Linked DNA regions of Homo sapiens. The protein of the gene in region 1 purifies or fractionates together with the protein of each later gene. This does not show direct contact. Each region holds a gene or a part of one and is shown on either strand. Other genes may lie near its edges.

Region 1 (3,500 bases):
AGAAGCATGACAACATCACCTTCAGAGGGTACGTCTCCTTACCCAGGCACACGCTGTTCCCACAGTCGTCTCCTGGGGGGTCTTTACAGAGCTCCTTCTCAGCATGTTTGCCAGGGCCCAGGGCTTCCTGCGAGATGCACAAGACAAGGACCCCAAACATCACTGACCTTTGACAACAGCCTAGGAACCCTAGCAGGCTCCCAGGAAAGATGATGGGAACAGAGGGATACCATGTGTGAAGCTGGCATCATAAGGAGCAGGATGGCCATTTGGTACATACATGTGTTTGGGGATGTTTGGGGCCCAGCAGGCTGGGGGTGAAGGGCAAAGGCTAACACCCTGGGCCTCATGCCCTTTTGCTGAGCAGAGGTCATGGAGAGAGAGGAGGAACACTGTGGGGGCAAGAGCACAGGAGCAGCAATGACAGGAAAGGAAGAACGAGTAACAGCTTACCTGGGACTCAGCTGTCACCTCCCAATCTCCAACGCTCCCCATCTTTGGGAGAGTAGGGACTCGGGGAGTGAGGACAGCTGAGGAAAAGAAAAAGTCACTGAAACCCAAGCTCTGGTTCCCAAAAAATCACCTCCCTTTGAGATTGGCTTTCCAAAAGTAACACTTGGATCAAGCTAGGGCTATCCCTATGGCCAGTGCAGACTTCCCCTTTACTTCCCTTCTAGAGTGTGTAGCTCCTAAGCTGCTGTGAGTGGTGTGCCATGTGGGAGATGCCAGCCCTGACCTCCTGTGATCACCACCCACCCCTGTCCCAGCCTGCACCTGCTGCAGGACTCCAGCTACAGCAGGGCATGATGACATCATCGATAGGCACAGCCTCTTTACGAGGCTTGCTTACTTCTCAGTAAGTGTGCCCACCACACTGCAGCCTATCCCTTGCTTTGAATTCTGCACATCCTTCTTCCCCATGCACCCTTCCTCACCTCCCATCCCTCTCCCCTGCAGAAGGCCTCATTCCCTAATGTTCTCAGATGTACTCACCACTCTCTTTCAAAGGCTGTGGTGCCACCTCGGCATTTAGGTGATTGGGAAGGTCAGGGCATGTATTCTTCACCCCCTTCTTCTGGGACTGTCCCTCAGGCCAGGGATCCACTGGCTGCAGCTGGAAGCTCTGAGCTTCTTCCCCTGTCTTTAAGGGCCTGGTCTCTTCTGTATGCAATTCCAGTCCCTACACACAAATAGTCAAAATTCCCAATCAACAATTCAGTAAGACCCACTTTGGTATTTTGAGTACAACTGCAGTCCAGAGGCTAACAGGCTCTTTTAAGATCCAAAATGGCTTGAAATAGGATGAGAAAGCCATCAGAGTGAGTTTGGTAGGTAGACCAGCATTTATACCACCAAATGAGTACCATCTGTTGAACACAGGGTGGCGATCCAAGTGTTTCAATGAGAGTCCCACTGTTCAAAACATTTTTGATTCATAAAGAGATAAATTATGTAAAATTTGTGTAACATTAAAAAATAACCCATAAGCATCAAAAATAGGTTGCTTACTTTTTAAATGATCAAAAAAAGATAAAAGTTATCAAGTTGTATATTAAAAGGCAAAGGGAGGCATAAAAACAGGAAAAAAATATAAAATTATAACCCCAAATGCAATTGCTCTAAATATCTCTGCTGAAAGAGAAAGATATTTTTAAAATAAAATTTTTAAAAAGGACAAAGAATTACAGATGGAGGCTGGGTGCAGTGGCTCATGCCTGTAATTCTAGCATTTTGGGAGGCTGAGGCAAGGGAATCACTTGATGCCAAGGGTTCAAGACCAGCCTGGGCAACATAGCAGACCCTCACCTCTATAATAAATAAATAAATAAATAAAATTAACCAGGCATGGTGGCACATGCCTGTACCCCCAGCTACTCAAGAGGCTGAGGCAGAAGGATCACTTGAGCCCAGAAGTTTGAAGTACCAGTGACCTATGATCATGCCACTGCACTCCAGCCTGGACAATGGAGTGAGAACTTGTCTCAAAAAAAGAAATTAGATGGAATTTTAAAATGAGATAAAAGTACGTGTTGTTAATCTTACAATAGAAGGACATGCAAAAGACAAGGCACTCTAACTCAAAAGGAAAAAGGAAGTGGCAATTTTCATTTCAATGTTGGATTTCAGGCAAAAAAAAAAAAGGTACTCAGAGATATAGATATTTAAAATAAAAGGGAGTAATCAACTAAAATAACATTACCCAATCAACTTCATCAATCACACAGCTAATTTCTTATCTCTATTTCTCAGCTGGTTCCAAGTTCACAGGTAGAGAGGTCAAGGTGTTACCCAGGCTATAAAACCTCCAAAATATAACAATCTCAATACTTTATAGAAACACCTAACTTTTAAAAACATATTTCAATTTTTTTCAATAGATAATAGACTCACATGGTTTAAAAACAGAAAATACATACATGGGTATATTCAGTGAAAATGCCCCACCTCCATCCATCTTCATCCCATCGACCCCGTTCTTTTCCCCTCTCCTCATCACAGGTAACTATGCTCTTCTGCATTCTTTTAGAGTTTCTTTCTACATACAAGCAAATGTAAATGTGTATTCTTAGCTTCCCTCTTTTTTATACAAAAACTTATGACTAGATATACTGCTCTGAGTCTTATTTTTTTGAACCAAAATAATAACAACTATCTTCATTAAATTACTGAGTTTGCCAAACTTAGCTCCAAAACTTTTTTGGCTGGCCTGAAAATTCAGATCCACTCACAGAGAAGGATTTTTACCATTGAGAAGACATATAGGAATGGGCCATGAGCATCAAGGGCCATTCCAAATAAGAAGATCCACCAGTGTCCTGTGTGACTTCACAGGGAGAAAGCATCTGCTTATCAATCTTCTTATATGGTCATGTTAAAAAAAAATTCACTTTGTTATCATTATAACCTACAGAGGAACTGTGTGACTAAATTCAACAACAATCTTTACTCTCAACCCCAGTGCCTCCAACTATTACCATCCCTAAGCAAAGATTCTGATTCCATGGATGGTAATTTTGGACACAGAAAGAAGTAGATTCAAGTGACAACCAGGAGACAAAAAATTAGTAGGTCAGACTTCTAGTTTCCAAGAAGTCTGTAGTCTACAAGTTGCCCCTCTAGACTCTACAGTAACAAGTAAAAAGCTGAACAAACTGAAAAATCAACAACTCTCCTTAGATCTGTCAGAGAAGTGAGGTCACAGGGCAAACCATTCTCCCCAAAATTGGAGAGACAAACAGGTAGAATCAGAGAATCACAACTTAGTGGAGCAGAAGCCTCTGTGGGAACCAGTTCCAGGGGAGAAAAACCTAAACTGTAATTGATGAACTGCTGGAAGGTCAGTGTGGACAACTCTGAGAGGTAAAAACTCCAGGGCACTTAATCACTGAGCAGGGGCACATTTTTGTAAGTTTTATCTCCAGGAGCTCAACCAGACCCTCACAGTGAATATCAGAGAAAAATCTCTTCATGCTTATGGCAGATGGCAGGAAAAAAGAACC
Region 2 (3,500 bases), on another chromosome or scaffold:
TACTTCTGGTTCAGGTCCGAGTCCACCTTGCGCAGCAGCTCCTGAGCGTCCTTCACGTCTTCGTGAAACTAGGGGAGAAGGTGGCTCTGTTACAGCCAGGAAACCACTAGAAGCACCTGGGCTTCTGTCGGAGGCTTCAAGCTCATCCCTCAGGCGGGGCTGGGCCTCCGGTTCACCTGGAGTCCAGCATGGGACCCTGTGCTGAGCCTGAGGCTCCTCTGCGTGGAGACAGCCCCACCCTCCCTGAGCTGGCTCCTTAGGGGCCTCACTGGGAAAAGCCAGGTCCCTTCCCACCCATCCATGAGATGCCACCTCTGTGACATGTTTTCTTGGATGTATCAGTAAGTCTTGAGGTGTCTTTGATTCAGTTCCTCTCTCTGTACTAGGAACATCCAGACTTAATACTATAGCTTCTTTCTAGGTTTTGATAATAGCCTCCCCTTTTTGTTCTCGAAAATTCTCTTGCCCATTCTTCAGTCTATCAACTCTTGGTTCACTGTCAGCTATCCCCTGGGCTGAGCACCTGGGCTGCAGCCATAAACAGGACCTGAAGCCCCCACTGTGCGGCTCAGACAGGGAATGAGGAGTGACACGGCGTCGCCCACATCCAGCTTTCCCCAGACACCTCAATCCTAAGAATTACCCGCAGCTTCTTAAGAACTCTCATTCCTCTGGAAACAGACAAGTGTCCAGCCACAGATGAGTGGATAAACACAGTGGTCTAGCCATACAATAGGATATGATTCAGCCATAAAAAGGGGTGAAGCACTGAAAATGCTACAACACGGATGAACCCGGAAAACATGATGCTCAGTGAGAGAAGCCAGACACAAAAGGGCAGAGATTGCATGATCCCACTGATTCTTCATATTCGTTCTAGGTGTGACACTTCTGGAACAGGCAAGTCCATAGAGACAGCAAGAAGACCAAAGGTGACCTGGGGCTGGGGGAGTGGGAATGGAAAACTTACTGCCTAATGAGTACGGGGTTGTTTTTTTTTTTTTTTTTTGAGGCGGAGACTCACTCTGTCGCCCAGGCTGGAGTGCAATGGCGCGATCTCAGCTCACTGCAACCTCTGCCTCCTGGGTTCAAGCAGTTCTCCTGCCTCAGCCTCCCATCTGGGACTACAGATATGGGCCACCACACCTGGCTAACTTTTGTATTTTAGTAGAGATGGGGTTTCATCATGTTGGCCAGGCTGGTCTTGAACTCCTGACCTCAGGTGATCCAGTCGCCTCGGCTTCCCAGAGTGCTGGAATTACAGACATGAGCTACCGTGCCCAGCCAGGGTATAGGGTTTCTGTTTGGGGTGATGGAAAGTTTTGCAAGTAGATGGTGGTGATGGTTGCATAACATTGCGAATGCAATGAATGCCACTGAATTGTACACTTAAAAATGCAAACTGGCCGGGTGTGGTGGCTCACACCTGTAATCCCAACACTTTAGGAGGCCGAGGCGGGAGGATCACCTGAGGTCAGGAGTTCGAGACCAGCCTGACCAACATGGCGAAACCCCATCTTTACTGAAAATACAAAAATTAGCTGGGTGTGGTGGTGGGCACTTGTAATCCCAGCTGTTCAGGAGGCTGAGGCAGGAGAATCACTTGAACCCAGGAGGTGGAGGTTGTAGTGAGCCGAGATGGCACGACTGCACTCCAGCCTGGGTGACAGGGCAAGACTCTCTCAAAAAAAAAAAAAAAAAAAAAAAAGGCAAATTTTGTTTTATGTATCTGCATGTATATTATAGATTTTACCAAAATTAAAACCCTACACACTCACCCTGGGCCCCATGTGACCTGGGGAATCAGACTCTGGCCCTGGTCCCCAGGGAAGTTGGACAGGGGCCGGCAAGCTTGGGACATGTCTGCACACGCCATCAGAAGCATGGGTGCTGGGGGCCTGGGATGGCTGCCCCGCAAGGCTCCTGGACCAAGGAGCACGAGGCCACACATGAGCCAGGTAGGCACTGAGCGCTCTCAGAGAGTAGCACCCCCGGTGCTGGGGGGACTCCCAGGAAAGGTAAGTACCTGGTGGTAGTCCTCCATGTACTTGAGGTGGCTCTCCTCGCAGATGAGCAGGTTCAGGTACTCCTTCCAGTCTGCGTGCACAGCCTCCATGTGCGCCTGCCAGGAAGAGAAGGGGCCGGTCACCACTGGGCAGGTACTGCAGACACCAAGGGAGGGACTGCTGGGATATTGGGCTGGGGCATGGCGGGGGAGGGAGGCATCTGGCATCTGTCTGGGTGTGGCTACCACAGGGGTAGCCAGCTTCTGCTCAGGAGTGGGAGGAGGAGAGAGGGGTCACGTCAAGGAGCCAAACAGGGATGCCACATACGGATGCCCAGGCTGTGCAGTGCACAAAGGGCAAGTGGGGGCTGTGGTGCCTTCGGCAAATCTGTACAAAGGCACTGTCATGGACCGAACAGTGTCCCACCAAATCCATGACCCTGGCCAGGCATGGTGGCTCACACCTGTAATCGCAGCACTTTGGGAGGCCGAGGCGGGTGGATCACCTGAGGTCAGGAGTTTGAGACTAGCCTGGCCCACATGATGAGACCCTGTCTCTACTAAAAATACAAAAATTAGCTGGGCATGATGGTGTGCGCCTGTAGTCCCAGCTACTTGGGAGGCTGAGGCAGGAGAATTGCTTGAACCCGGGAGGTGGAGGTTGCAGTGAGCCAAGATTACACCATCGCACTCCAGCCTGGGCAACAACAGCGAAACTCCATCTCAGGCGGGGTTGGTGGCATTGTGGGGGTTGGGAAGAATGCGACCTTATTTGGGAATAAGATCTTTGCAGATGTCATTAGTTAAGGATCCTGAAATTAGGGTGAGCCCTAAATCCACTGACTGATATCCTTATAAGAAGAGAGGATACAGAGAGACATGGGGAGAGAAGGCCATGTGAAGACGGAGGAAGGGACTGGAATGATGCAGCCACAAGCCAAGGGCTGTTGGCAACCCCCAGAAGCCGGAAGAGCAAGGAAGGCACATGTCCTGGAGCTTCCAGAGGGAATGAGGCCCTAAGACACCTTGATTTCAGACTTACAGCCCACAGACCTCTGAGAGAATGAATTTCTGTTGTTTAAAGCCACTAAGTTTGTTTTAACTTGTTGCAGCAACTCTAGGAAACTAATACAGACCCCACAGGGGCTTCAGAAGTCCAGGGGCTGAGGGCAGAAGTGTCAACGGATCAGGATAAATGGAGGAGGCAGAGTCAGACACAGCAAGAAAGAGACAGACAGACACAAGATGCAGCTTGCAGGACCCCCAGCTCCGGGGTCTGCCCGAGCTCCAGGCGGCCCACAGGCAGCGGCCAACCAGAAGCCACCCTGGGGGAGGTGTCTGGTCTCGGGGTGCATGAACCTCAATGGAGTTCCTCCCGGGGTGCTCGGCCGCCAGCAGCTGGTCGCCCTCGCTGTGCAGTTTGTTGATTCTCTCCTCTTTGGCCTCCAGGTTCCGGTTGATGAAATTCTGCAGTGGGGGGCAGTGGAGGGGCCTC
Region 3 (4,130 bases), on another chromosome or scaffold:
CGTCTGAGCCAGTCACATCTTGCAGATCCAGGACCCCTCATGGAGCCTGGAGAGTGAGGGCGCACAGGAGTCCACCCTCTCCTGCTCCCCACGCTCCCTTCTTGGTGCCTGTTCTGTTGTGAGTGGTGCTATTTGCCTGCCTCCAGTCTCTGTTCCCTCTACATATTTTATTTTATTATTATTTTTTTTGAGACAGAGTCTCACTCTGTTGCCCAGGCTGGAGTGCAATGGTGCAATCTCAGCTCACTGCAAACTCCGCTTCTCGGGTTCAAGGGATTCTCCTGCCTCAGCCTTCTGAGTAGTTGGGATTAGAGGCGCCAGCCACCACACCTGGCTAATTTTTGTATTTTTAGTAGAGATAGGGTTTCACCATGTTGGCCAGGCTGCTCTTGAACTCCTGAGCTCAAGTGATCCACCTGCCTCGGCCTCCCAAAGTGCTGGGGTTAACAGGCATGAGCCACTGAACCTGGCCTCTGTTCCCCCTACATAAATGGGTAAGAGAAACCTTCCAGAAAACCTCTCCTGGCTGGGCAGTGCAGGGGAAGAGAACCCTGGCCTGCCCTCTGCCAAAGCTGGGCACTAGCCACAGGACTTTGGCACGTCCCCTAACCTCTCTGAGCCTTTGTTTCCTTATCTGAGAATCAGGGCGTCAGCAGCCTCATCTTGACCACATCAGAGGGTAGTTACAAAGATTACACAGGCCAAGGCTCATCTCCGAAAGCTATTCCTCATGCTCACTCTCCTAACCAGGTTTTGTCAACACTCAGTCCCTTTGCACTATACTAGATCTTGATCTCAGGAACTGTTTCCCATTCCCCAGGAAGGGCTTCATGGGCCCCACTTGAGGCCCCCTTAACCAGGAGGGCAGCTCCCTGAAGGTGGGACAGGGTGCCCGCCACCCTGTCTGATACGTGCTTTGCAGATAAGGTGGCTCACCCCATCTGACCAGCTGCCACCAGCTCCTTTGTAAGGGAGATGGGGAAGGGGGAGGAACCCAGTGATATAGCTGCCCAAGCTTCTTTCACCAAACAAAGGCTACGCGGACCCCCCCGCCCCGCCAAATGTCCCAGGGGTTTAACCTTTCCCTCCCCCAACCCCCCTGTCCCCCATCTCCCCATCCCTGTTCACCTACATTCAGCAGCTGGTTGGCCTCCTTGCTGGCTTGGTTGACCCCATTATGAGCATTCTGCAGCTCCTTCCCGGCCTGGCCAGCAGCATGGTGGGCACCTTGGCCAAGCTTCTCCACTTCCTTTCCAGCCTGGTCAGCAGCATGGTTGACCCCTTGGCCAAGTTTCTCTGCTTCCTTCCCAGCCTGGTGGACCCCAGTGTGGAACCCTTGGACCGCTTTGTCTGCTTCCTTCCCGGCCTGTTCAAGGGTATGGTGAACTCCCTGGCCAAACTGCCCTGCCTCCTTCCCGGCCTCGTGGACCCCAGGTTGGACACCATGAACTGCTATGTCTCCCTCTTTCCCAGCCTGCCCTGCTGTGTGGTGAATGTCGTGGCCAAACTGCCCCGCCTCCCTTCCAGCCTGACTAACGCCATGATGGAGGCCTTGGACCACTCTGTCTTCCTCCTTCCCCACCTGCGAGGCAGCATGGTGGACACCCTGGCCAAACTTCTCTGCTTCCTTCCAGGCCTCATTAACCCCATGGTGGACCCCATGGCCGAGCTTCTCTGTTTCCTTCCCAAACTGACTGGCAGCATGGTGGACCCCCTGGCCAAACTTCTCTGTCTCCTTCCAGCCCTCACTGAGACCATGGTGGACCCCCTGGCCAAACCTCCCAGCCTCATTTCCGGCCTGCCCCGCAGCATGGTGGGCCCCCTGGCCAAATCTCCCTGCCTCATTTCCGGCCTGCCCCGCAGCATGGTGGGCCCCCTGGCCAAACTTCTCTGCCTCCTTCCCAACCTGACCAGCAGTATGGTGGACCCCCTGGCCAAACTTCTCTGTCTCCTTCCAGCCCTCACTGAGACCATGGTGGACCCCCTGGCCAAATCTCCCTGCCTCATTTCCGGCCTGCCCCGCAGCATGGTGGGCCCCCTGGCCAAACTTCTCTGCCTCCTTCCCAACCTGACCGGCAGCATGGTGGATCCCCTGGCCAAACTTCTCTGTCTCCTTCCAGCCCTCACTGAGACCATGGTGGGCCCCCTGGCCAAATCTCCCAGCCTCATTTCCGGCCTGCCCTGCAGCATGGTGGACTCCCTGGCCAAACCTCCCAGCCTCATTTCCGGCCTGCCCTGCAGCATGGTGGACTCCCTGGCCAAACCTCCCAGCCTCATTTCCAGCCTGCCCTGCAGCATTGTCGACTCCCTGGCCAAACTTCCCTGCCTCACTTCCCGCCTGGTTGGCCCCGTGATGGACCCCATGATGGATCAGTTTGTCTGCCTCCTTCCCAACCTGTCCAGCAGCGTTGTTGACCCCATGGCCAAGCTTCTCTGCTTCCTTTCCTGCTTGTCCAATACCATGGTTGATCTCATGGGCAACCTTGTCCATGCCGTGGTTGAGCCCCTGGACGCCTTTGTCCAACTCCTTGCCGGTGTGGCTCCCCATGTTGCTAAGTCCGTTGAAAACCTTCTCCACTTCCCTTCCGGCATGCGTGATTCCACTGTTGATGCCATCCAGGGCCTTGCCCACCTCTCTCTCTGCATTGCTCAGCCCTCGGTTGATCCCTTCAATGACCTTCTCAATGGGGTCATCGCTGGCCGCCCATCCAGACAGGGCCCCCAGTAGCAGAAGGAGGGAGCAGGAGCCGACCAGACGTGCAAGATGCATATTGCTGGGAAGGTCGGGAAGGATGCAGAGAGGAGCCAGGGAAGCCACGCTGCTATTTATCCTCTCTCCCTCTCGCCCTCTTCTCCACCCCTCATGACTCAATTACCCCTGTGAGGCACTGAGTTGGTCTTCAGTCAAGGAGGTGTTTCCCAGGGAGATTTGGAGTTGAGCAATGGAGAGGAGGAGGAAGAGAGGGTGAGTCATGGATGGAGAAGAACTCTGGCATCTTTGCTCCTTGCCCTCCACCCCAGAGATGGGTGTCTGCCCTTCCAACCACCTCCTCTTTCATTCCTCACCCACTGTCCAGGCCTCCTCTCTCGCAAACCCACCTTCCACCATGCTCCATCCCTGGGATGCAGGCAATTCTTCAACACCTCACTCCTCTCAGGCATCTAAGCCTCCAGCTCCCCAGGCAGTGAGGGGCTAGAATGATGGGAGGCACCGTCTGGAGAGGGGAGAACACTAGGTGGGATGAAGGAGTCATCAGACCTCGTTCTTGTGGGCCAGCCCCTGCCCTCACTCATTCCATTCCAGCCACACAGGCCTTCTCCCTGTTCCACAAACACACCAAGCTCATTCCTGCTGCAGGGCCTTTGCACATGCTCCTCTCTCTGCCTGGAATGCAGAACCCAGATCTTCACGTGGCTGGCTCCTCCTCATCCGTACTTGACTTAAATGCCAACTTCGCAAGAAAACCTCTCCTGACCATAACATGGCATTAATTATACTCTGTAGTATCACCCTTTTGTTTTCACAGAAAAAAAAAATCTGAAATTACCTTTATTTTTTATTGCCTGTCTCACCTACTAGCAATGTAAATTGGTCGTGTTGATCACTGCTGTATTCCTAGCTTCTTGAACACTGCCTGGGGTTCAGTAAATATTTATTGACTGGACAAATGGATGGATTCGAACAGGCCAAGGAAAGAGACTCCGAGCCCGAGTCTGGGTCTCACAGGGTGCTGGAGGGAAGGGCGCCTGGGTCGCCAGGGCAGCATAGAGTCCCTTGTGGAGTGCCGCAGATTTTGGAGGCAGGATCCCATTCCTGTCGCAGAACCCAGACCTCCTGCCTCCCAGCCCTTGGGCAAGGGCAGGGGGCTGATTGCCACGAGCTGGAACAGGACGCAGTGTCTCCTGAAAAGCCGGTTGAGGCAGCCACGGGGAGGGGCCGAAGACCCAGGGCAGCAGGAGCCTGTGAGCCAGAACCTGGGCTGGGGCCAGGCCCTCATCCTTCCTGCCCTCCCGACATGGGGCCTCCTAAGCCCCAACCTGAAGCCCCAAGTGTTGACATATTGGCTCGGGTTGGAGGGGAAACAGCTGAGAGTCTGGCCTCAGGCATGAAAAGGGCATCGGAAGGAAGG
Region 4 (4,289 bases), on another chromosome or scaffold:
TCGTATGTGACTGAGTCAGTGCCAGTTTATCGATGGTATCTTATTACTTATTACTCTTACTCACTCTATTACCCAACCTCCTCTTTTATTACAAGATTATCCCTAAATCCACACTTCAGTGATGTATTGTTAGGGTCTGGGACACTCCAGTGGGGGAGAGTTGTGGAAACGGAGCTATTGCACTCTGAGTAAATGCTCTCCACCTGGATCGGTCAGGCTCATCTGCCTTGCTTTCTTCCATTTGGCCACTCAGAGACACAGACATCAGGATGCAAATGAAATGTGGGTAGGCCAGGTGAAATTACCTGTAAAAATAGATACGTTTTTTCTCCGAAGAGCTTGTTGGCGATCTTCAGCTCATATGCATCAGTGGATTTGTTGAATTCAGTCAGAAGCTTTTGAAACTGGTGATGAACATTTCCTGACCTATCAACCTTCAAACATCAAAAAAGGAGATCATTCAATTGCTGTATCAATGTAAATACTAAACCCATGCTAAGTCTGTTAGATCAGTCCCTAATGGCTGGTAGTCTCAATGAGGACCTTTGAGCTTATTCCCTGATACTTGGTGTATTTCACCTCAAATACCCTTCAAAATCCACCTTATGTTTCACTTCTTCCAGGAAATTCTTCTTGCTCTAATGTACTGCAATCTTTTCTCTTCTGAACTATAGATGCAGCACTGTCTACCACTGGATTTTGTCCTTGTTGGTTTAAAGGGTTAGGTTTAGCTTCCCAGTTAAACTCTCAGCTCCTTAAAGGCAAGGACCATATTTCACTTCTAACAGTCATCAAGGATATGAGTATGTTGAAGGTTGGATATTTTAAATAGATTATGCCAGGAAGCCCTGTTATACCTGTTGGTGCTGTTATCTTGTAGGACACATTGACTGATCTGTGACTGTTTCCTCATGATGGTCATTCTCTGCACGTAAGAAGAGTGTGTGCCAGGTACATGGCTAAGGACTTTACATGGGTAACTTTAAGTCTTTAGTTCAATTCAGGTGAAAACAAGAAAGCTCAGAGAATGGAAAGTAAACCTCTTCATAGAGACATAAATTAGAAGTGCCACGTTTTGAACCTAAGCCTGTTTAAATCTAGAAACTTCTACTTTCCAGCAAAGCATTTTGCACTATTAAGGCTCTAAACCAATATATTCCATAGCAATCATTTTCCAAAATATAGTTGGACTTGTGCTTATTCCTCTTTATCTCATTAATGACTCAATGAAAATTAAATATTTTGCAACATTATTGTGATTAGTATAATTATAGCTATTTTATAATAATAATAACATTTATTATGACATTTTATGGGCAAGGCAATGTTGTAAACATTTGCATGTATTTGCATGTATTGAGTCAGATTTCTTATTACCCTTAGTTTTCTGGGATGAGGTCACTGGGACTCTGAGCAGTTGTGTCCTGCTCATGTTCACCATTTGTGAAGAGCAAAGCTGGAGTCTGAACCTAGCCTATCCTGATCCAGACCTATGCTCTGAGGTACAGTGCTGACTGTCTTTCAGTAACGAAGAAAGGAGGAATAATAATTATGTGCCATGAAATGCCAACCCACTCTGTATGTCTCAATCTTTGTGTCCAAGATTTTCCCTAAAAATGGCCTTTTCTTAGTTTCTGTGAAGTTCCAGGTTCAAACTATGACCTGTTCGGGGATCTAAAGCTGAACCATAGTGCTCTGTGACTCACATGATATGTTGCAGCTTTTCCTGTGGTGTTCTCTGTGACTTGATCAAAGTGAAGAACCTGGAAGAGACATGAAGCGGGACAAGAAAACTTTACTCAAAAGATCTGTTTAAGTCAGTGGTCTCACAGTTACGGGAATTCCTGCTCAGCCCCCTGTGCTACCCATCAGACCACCACATCTATTACCATCTGCGTGCTAGCCGACGGAACCAGAGAAAAACTGCAACAGGACAACATAATGATGCTGATAGCTACCTTCTTAATCTGTTGTGCAGTGTTGTCTTTGGCTCCTAAGAGGACCATCCCTAATGCTGATGTGATGCTGATAGGGGAATAGAAGATGTTGTTCTCTTTTGATTTTCTGAACTGTTGGAACAGGTCGAACATGAACTTGGTGTTGGCTTCACTGAGTGAATTCATGGTGAACTCGATGTGATCTGGAACTCCTGGAAAAGCATCAGATTCCTGTCAGAATGACTTTAATAAATGGAATGGTATTTTGTAGTACAATTTTCTTAAAGAAATTATATATCTGTGTTGTGAGATTTTGACATTTAAAGTTTTCCTCATCTTATTTTTAACGTTTCAATCTTTCTACAATGTGCATATATTAAATATATTAATGTCTTAATTAGAAGCCTCACAAAATTAGTGTTTTTAAAGACTACTGTAAATAAGTAATAGACCCTCTTTCCTTCATTGCTGGCTACACTAGGGCTAGGTAGGAAGGCTTTACAATGAATGCTAACAGGAGACCTCTGTGGATCACATCCAACCAGCTGTTAAGATGCGTCCCTGACATCTCCTTCAAGACTCTCTGGCTGCAAGGCACTCTCCCTCTGTGTTCCTAAAAGTGCCTTGGTTTACTTGGAACTAAGCAATTTAGATAAAGGACAAATCAGATGAAATAGGTATTTTAATTTTGCTCTGGCAGAATAAGTAAAATATAATCAGACAGAATGCAGGAGATGCATGATATAGAACACAGTATCATTATTATTCTCAAAAATAATTCATGTTATTAAGCTGGAGAGGCTTGAAGCTCTTACCTGTGTTCCTAGAGGAAGCAGAGGTGGGCAGAGAGGCTATGTGTGTCTGTGGAATGAAGGGTGAGATCCTGAATTTATGCCTCTCCTCTTGCTGCCTCTCCCTCTGTGGTTAGTATTTGAAGTTACTCAACTTCAGATTTCACAAGCGGGCTAACACTCACCTTTATGAATACGAAAATTTATGACAAAGGACAGGATTACAGTTCTACCATTGTACCTCCTTTTTAATCTATAGGGAAAAAATAAGAATGCAAGTCAGCAGTCACCGGCTCATGTGAAATACATGTAGGTGCCTTTCTAATGCCAATGAGAATAAGTTTAGAATTCCAATTTCCTCTCATTTGTTTCAACTCCATCCCTTTGTATTCTACTCCAGCTGTAAAACAAAAACAAAAACAAACAAACAAAAACCCCACCATTCTTTTCTTGGATTTTGCATTGTCTTTTAGGCATACTTCGAATACCAAAGAACTAAAAAGCTTACATTTCCTGTTTTTCAGTTCTGAAAGTTTTTGTCATCCTATGAATTTCCTTAGTAATTTTTCTGTATAACAAGGAATATAGTGCTAATTCTAAGTCCAAAGAGATAGTGAAGAAGTGTACTTCAGTATCTTATAGCATACTATGGAGAATAGGATTCTATTGCCTTCTCCTGAATGCTCAGCTTTGGCAGTGATCCTACCAGTCACTTCCTGTGCCCCTTACAACCATCCCAGATGGTTTTCTGTTGCATAGGCTCAGTGAGAAAGTTATCTGCCTTGCTGAGTGATATGGTTTGGCTGTGTTCCCACCCAAATCTCAACTTGAATTGTATCTACCAGAATTTCCACATGTTGTTGGAGGGACCCAGGTAGAGGTAATTGAATCATGGGGGCCGGTCTTTCTTGTGCTATTCTCATGATAGTTAATAAGTCTCAGGAGATCCAATGGGTTTATTAGGGGTTTCTTCTTTTGCTTCTTCCTCATTTTCTCTTGCAGCCACCATGTAAGAATAACTTTTGCCTCCTACCGTGATTCTGAGGCCTCCCCAATCACGTGGAACTCTAAGTCCAATTAAACCTCTTTTACTTCCTAATCTCAGGTATGTCTTTATCAGCAGCATGAAAACAGACTAACACATTGAGTTAACAGGCTGACACTGAGAAGAGCAATTGAAACAGACGGGCCATTTTGAATGTCAGCTTTCTAATTTTTCATTTAAAAATTAAGCAGAAAAAGAAGTTGCTTGACCTGTCAGGATCACAACGTTTCTTGGTGGTCCTTCCATTTAGCACCTGGCTTCAGACTCATTCCAGTGTTTCCTCTGGAATATCTTGTAATCTGAAGAATGTCTGTGGCCAGGGAGAGGGTTGTTGTCCAAGGCCATTTAATCCAATATCTCCCTGACAACCAGAGTGGGGGGCTGTTTGTTTTGTGGACCCCCTTTTTTAACATATAATTTATATGCCACAAATTCAACTGTACAATTCAATGATTTTATTATATTCACAAAGTTGTGCTATCACCATCATGATCTCGTTCCACAACAATTTCACTA

What was found. The genes of interacting proteins can lie anywhere in the genome.
Region 2: the proteins of ZSCAN20 (region 1) and PPL purify together in Homo sapiens (affinity purification with mass spectrometry; 3 studies listed by BioGRID and IntAct, with this or other methods). This does not show direct contact.
Region 3: the proteins of ZSCAN20 (region 1) and SBSN purify together in Homo sapiens (affinity purification with mass spectrometry; 3 studies listed by BioGRID and IntAct, with this or other methods). This does not show direct contact.
Region 4: the proteins of ZSCAN20 (region 1) and SERPINB3 purify together in Homo sapiens (affinity purification with mass spectrometry; 3 studies listed by BioGRID and IntAct, with this or other methods). This does not show direct contact.

The regions. Positions count from the first base shown.
Region 1 is NC_000001.11:33,486,145-33,489,644, reverse strand, and holds part of ZSCAN20 (zinc finger and SCAN domain-containing protein 20), read right to left. Parts: intron 1,181-3,500; coding exon 994-1,180; intron 532-993; exon of another isoform or gene 531-531; coding exon 454-530; intron 128-453; coding exon 43-127; intron 1-42. UniProt on the Homo sapiens protein: May be involved in transcriptional regulation.
Region 2 is NC_000016.10:4,895,649-4,899,148, forward strand, and holds part of PPL (periplakin), read right to left. Parts: intron 3,473-3,500; coding exon 3,365-3,472; intron 2,123-3,364; coding exon 2,027-2,122; intron 933-2,026; exon of another isoform or gene 69-932; coding exon 1-68. UniProt on the Homo sapiens protein: Component of the cornified envelope of keratinocytes. May link the cornified envelope to desmosomes and intermediate filaments. May act as a localization signal in PKB/AKT-mediated signaling.
Region 3 is NC_000019.10:35,525,512-35,529,641, forward strand, and holds the start of SBSN (suprabasin isoform 1 precursor), read right to left. Parts: upstream 2,801-4,130; 5' UTR 2,771-2,800; coding exon 1,133-2,770; intron 1-1,132.
Region 4 is NC_000018.10:63,659,094-63,663,382, forward strand, and holds the start of SERPINB3 (serpin B3), read right to left. Parts: upstream 2,801-4,289; 5' UTR 2,753-2,800; intron 2,150-2,752; 5' UTR 2,124-2,149; coding exon 1,959-2,123; intron 1,764-1,958; coding exon 1,707-1,763; intron 435-1,706; coding exon 306-434; intron 1-305. UniProt on the Homo sapiens protein: May act as a papain-like cysteine protease inhibitor to modulate the host immune response against tumor cells. Also functions as an inhibitor of UV-induced apoptosis via suppression of the activity of c-Jun NH(2)-terminal kinase (JNK1).